Regions from separate parts of the Homo sapiens genome. Here region 2 is linked to region 1. The links come from fine-mapping of genetic effects on gene expression. Tissue or cell type: unexposed skin. Region 1 holds a variant in brackets; the other region holds the start of a gene. All regions are shown on one strand. Distances are from middle to middle.

What was found. PIP is the estimated chance that this variant, and not a neighbour inherited with it, causes the effect.
Region 2: ACYP2 starts here. The variant in region 1 is fine-mapped to the expression of ACYP2 in unexposed skin (GTEx, PIP above 0.99).

Annotation. Positions count from the first base shown.
Region 1 is chr2:53,993,578-53,996,426 of GRCh38, forward strand. It overlaps a transcript of ACYP2 not described here. Among named protein-coding and RNA genes, the nearest start is that of PSME4, 24 kb to the left of the region's middle. The variant C/A (reference allele first, on the strand shown) is at 1,451.
Region 2 is chr2:54,114,042-54,116,714 of GRCh38, forward strand. ACYP2 (acylphosphatase 2) reads left to right here and starts at 1,574. Exons shown (of 4, transcript NM_138448.4): 1 at 1,574-1,715. The coding sequence starts at 1,658. RefSeq lists silencers at 1,403-1,472, 1,963-2,022.

The DNA.
Region 1 (2,849 bases):
TCTCAGCTCCTCGGGAGGCTGAGGCACAAGAATCGCTTGAACCTGGGAGGCAGAGGATGCAGTAAGCCAAGATCATGCCACTGCACTCCAGCCTGAGCGACAGAGTGAGGGAAAAAAAAGGATGAAAAAAAAAAAGATTTGGGAATCAAAAGATAAGCTATTTCTGGTAGTCTCTATTTTCCCGGAGAAGTAGGCAACACCCTCAGTTGGGAGTAGAGGGTTGTGGAAAAGACGTGGAAGTTCAGAGAAAAAAAGTAGAAAGTTGAGAATTTGTAAAGTAAGGAAGAAAATAATTTGGGAAAGAGGATGTATAATATAGGAAACTGGGCCAGGCACGGTGGTTCACGCCTGTAATCCCAGCGCTTTGGGAGGCCGAGGAGGGTGGATCACCAGGTCAAGAAGTTGAGACCATCCTGGCTAACACAGTGAAACCCCGTCTCTACTAAAAATCGTACAAAATATTAGCCAGGCGGCTGGGCGTAGTGGCTCACGCCTGTAATCCCAGCACTTTGGGAGTCCAAGGCGGGCGGATCCCGAGGTCAGGAGATCGAGACCATCCTGGCTAACACGGTGAAAACCCTTCTCTACTAAAAATACAAAAAATTAGCTGGGCGTGGTGGCAGGCGCCTGTAGCCCCAGCTACTCGGAAGGCTGAGGCAGGAGAATGGCCTGAACCCAGGAGGCGGAGCTTGCAGTGAGCAGAGATCGCGCCCCTGCACTCTAGCCTGGGTAACAGAGCAAGACTCCGTCTCAAAAAAAAAAAAAAAAAAAAAAACGAAAAAAAACAAAATATTAGCCAGGCATGGTGGCACGTGCCTGTAGTCCCAGCTACTCGGGAGGCTGAGGCAGGAGAATCACTTGAACCCAGGAGGTGGAGGTTGCAGAGAACCAAGATTGCACCACTGCCCTCCAGCCTGGGTGACAGAGTAAGACTCAGAAAAAAAAAAAAAAAAAAGAGGAAACTGGCAGGAAAGAGGTCATGCTGGGGTGGACTATGAGAGGCAATAATTCGAAATTATATCGTGGAAATGCTTCAACCTCTACCAAGACCTACTTCAAAAGGAAAATCTTGTGTTGAGTAGCAGTTAAAAATGGAATAAGATATCAGACCTTCAACCAAATAGTTCTTAATAGCTCAAAACTACTATAGGATAGCAATTTTATTCCCAAATTATTCTAGAACTGAATATCTGAAACTCAGTGACCAAAAGCCAGTCAACCAATCTTCCACAGCCTAATACACACACATAAAATATACCTCTGGCATTACATTATAACTTCCCCCATCAAACAAAACAGGAAGAGTGGTTATGTTGGGCTGATAGTGTAAGATGGTCTGTCATGTAGCGTTTCCGTTATATTCTGAATTTGAGTTGGTATACCATGTGACAGTTCTTTATATATATGTTTTCAACACCGCTATGACAAGAGTGTCTTTCTGTTTTTGCGT[C/A]AGTGTCTCATGAAAAGAAGACATAAAGAATATTCAAAAGAAATTTTAAGAATCTTTGTTATCTGAAGGTCGTATCTTTAGTGCATGTTCTGTCTCTCATAGTTGCTAAACTCTAGCTGCAGCTCTTCTCTCAGAGAACTGCTCTGTCCTGCCCATCTATCCCATTATGACTTTCAGTTGTGAGATGAAGATATCTGTTTGAGAAAAAAAATTGGTTCCTCTAAATAGAGAAATGTCCAAATAGCTACTTTAGTCTCTTCTTTAATCTCAAGTTACATCAGAGAAAAGATTTCAGCATGTATAAAACATCCATATCTACAGTGACCTTGGTGTTTTTCTCAATGCATAAATCATCACATTTCTTCATTTTCTAGTGCATGAAATAATTAAACTTAAAATATCTTCTTTAATTCTAGACACAATTAATTCAATGCTATTATTTTTTATTTATTTATTTATTTTTTATTTATTTATTTATTTATTTATTTATTTTTGAGACAGAGTCTCTTTCTGTTGCCCAGGCTGGAATGTAGTGGCATGATCTCAGCTCACTGCAACCTCCGCCTCCTGGGTTCCAGGGATTTCCAGCTAATTTTTTTATTTTTAGTAGAGACAAGGTTTCATCATGTTGGCCAGGCTGGTCTCAAACTCCTGACCTCAAGTGATCTGTCTGCCTCGGCCTCCCAAAGTGCTAAGATTACAGGTGTGAGCCAGCTCGCCTGGCCTCAATACTATTAATTTTTTACTTATGTAAATTTTGTAGGGTGTAACTTCCCACATATTTCCAAAGCGTTTTTATATTTAACACTAAAGACCCACAATGGGCTGGGCACGGTCGTTCACGCCTATAATCCCAGCACGTGGGGAGGCCGAGGCGGGCGGATCACCTGAAATCAGGAGTTTGACACCAGCCTGGCCAACGTGGTGAAACCCTGTGTCTACCAAAATTACAAAAAATTAGCTGGGCTTGGTGGTGGATGTCTGTAATCCCAGCTACATGGGAGGCTGAGGCAGGAGAATTGCTTGAACCTGGGAGGTGGAGATGGCAGTCAGCCTAGATTGTGCCACTGCACTCCAGCCCGGGCAACAAGAGCGAAACTCTGTCCCCACCACCCAAAAAAAAAAAGACTCACAATGTACAAACGGCTATTCTAGGCATAGTTGGTTCTAAGAGAATAAGATTCCTTGATAGATACATCCAGCTTTTCTATTTAGAGTTGTGTAGTTTTGGGTCCTTCAGGAAGCAGACACTGAAATAAAGTTGGAAGTGCAAGAAGTGTAGGGGGTGGAATGGTGATGGGGATGTACACCTATGAGAGATAAAAAAGGAGGATGGAGGATTGGGTAAAGAAAGCCTTCAGATCTGGATGCTGATCTGATATCTGTGAAAGGAAAGAGG
Region 2 (2,673 bases), 120 kb after region 1:
GATTTAACCATATTCTAACCAAGTTTTGGATGATTTTTGGTGTTCTCTAATAGAATTGGCACAGTATATTGAATCAGATTGCAGTGGATTATTTTAACTGTGTGGCCAGATGCAGAGAAATATGCCAAGGTATTGAGGCCAACAAATAGAGAAATGCAAATTCTCACAAGTAAACAGATTTGGAATTCTAGAAGGTGGCAGATTATCAATAGCTGTATCCAGATCCTTTGGAGTGGTGGATGGTTTTATATTAAAACTTGGTAATAGCTCACCAGGAAATAAAATTCAGCCTTAACCTTCTAGGCAATTGGGATGTTGCTGAGAATAATCAAGACAATCAAAAAAAAAAAAAAAAAAAAAGGTCGGGTGTGGTGGCTCACACCTGTAATCCCAGCACTTTGGGAGGCCGAGGCAGGTGGATCACCTGAGGTCAGGAGTTTGAGACTAGCCTGGACAACATGGTGAAACCCCGTCTCCACTAAAAATACAAAAATTAGCTGGGTGAGGTGGCGCATGCCTGTAATCCCAGCTACTTGGAAGGCTGAGGCAGGACAATTTCTTGAACCTGGGAGGTGGAGGCTGCTGTGAGCTGAGATTGCACTACTGCACTCCAGTCTGGGAGACAAGAGCGAAACTCCGTCTCAAAACAACAGCAACAAACCCACACCAAAAAAACTGTATGAACAGCAGACAAGATGACTACAGTGTTTTTCTTTTGTCTGTTTCCACTAGCATAAAAGACTTCATATTTTTAAAAAGTTTCTTATCCCAGAAAATATCACAATCCGTTTAGAATACGAGTTCAGGCTCAATTCCTTCCTGACTGTACAGAAGAGCTCAAGATGTTGCAGACCTTATCTTAAAAGCTGGCTTGGTAGTCACCTAAACATTTCATAAATAATTTACTAACTCTCAAAACACTAAACACGCAGGCCCTTGATTTCAAAAGCCAATCTTGCTGGGATGGAGTGGGGTGGGGGACCTGGGATGGGGGATGAAAGGGGTTGGAAATGGGGAGATATTGGTCAAAGGGTACAAAGTTTCAGTTAGTGTGAATAATAAGTTCTGAAGATCTGTTGTCTAACATGGTGACTGCGATAAATGTATTGTGTCCTTAAAAATTGATGAGAGTAGATCTTAAATGTTCTCTTCATTAAAAAATGGTGCAATGGATACGTTAATTTCATTGATGTAATCATTTCACAATGCATACATATGTCAAAACATCACCTTGTACACCACAAATATACCCAACTTTTATTTGTCAATTACACTTTAATAAAGCTGGGGGAAGCCACTCTTTTTTTGGGCACAGCATCCGGCTTTTATTTACTAACTTTGAGAACAGAGTACCTTGATCAATTAAATGGTAGGGAGCGCTGTGGAGACAGCATCCTCCCCAGTCCGGGAAGAGAGGCCTAGGATGCCTGGGGCCCAGCGGCCTCTTCCCTCCTGGCGTCCCCGGCTGCCCTCGCTCCCAGGCCCCGCAGTCTCATTTGCCGCTTCCGACGCGTGACCCCGGCGCGCTAGCGTCCGGGACCGGTGACAGGCGCGGGGTGCGCCAAGCAGTCCCATGTGTCCCCTCCCTCTCGCAGCCGCCGCAGTCGCTGCGCCCCGAGCCCCTCTCCGGCTCCTCAACAGAGGGCTCGCCGCCGCCATGTCTACCGCCCAGTCACTCAAATCCGTGGACTACGAGGTGTTCGGAAGAGTGCAGGGTAGGAGGCCCCTCTACGGTGGGAGATCAAAAAGGTTATGGGAGGAAGGGGAGAAAGCTGTGAGAAGCGCCTCCCACCTAAAGTATGCCTTTTCCCGTTGTGGCTGGGACTTCCGCTCCGCCATGACACAGCAGCGGCGGCGGGGAGGGAGGCGAAACGCGCATGCGCCCGAGGACTTGGACGGGCGGAAGTACGGGAATGGGGAGGGAAGTGGGGGAGCGGGAGAGGAGGGGTCAGGGGACTGCTGAGGACCAGAAGTGGGCGGCTGCTGGGTGCGGGAGTAAGCGGCACGGGGGAATGTTGAAGTTGGGTAGGAAAAGAAGAGGGTCTTTTAACTAGTGGTCTCGTTGCTTGCCACTGAAGCTACCTGGGCTTGACTTGAGTTTTAGGAAGGACACTTAGATGGTTTAAGGTTAATTTTTCAGAGGTCAAACCTTTTTTTAGACCTCTTTGTAGCTCTTAAAAGAATGAAATTGTTATCTAATTTTTGTTTCATCCTAAGTTTAAGTAGTTGCCAAGTTTGTAATGTCTGGCTTGTTGAAAATATTGATATTTATAAATGAAAATATTAAGTCACTCTGAGATTTATGCAATGGAATATAAATAGGGTAGTGATTTAACATCCACCATCTTCATTTAAAATAAAACTCTTCAACAATGGGAAATTTTACTCATTTCTTTTCCTCTTTGAATTTGATTTTCATTTCACTTTTCCCACCGAATTACCCCATTGTTTTGCTTGAGGGTTTTTTTTTTTTTTTTGCTCACCCTATCATACTTTTCTGCAATATGTATATGTACATATATGCACATGTATGAATAAGTGTAATGCTTTTTCTTAATTTCCTTTGACAATAAGGCTCTCTTAGAAACAAATGCTGGTTCTTTGGTGCCAAAAAGAAGAACTAGCGCTCAAAGAATTTTCTCAGCAAGGCAATTTTACCTCTATAGAAGGGTG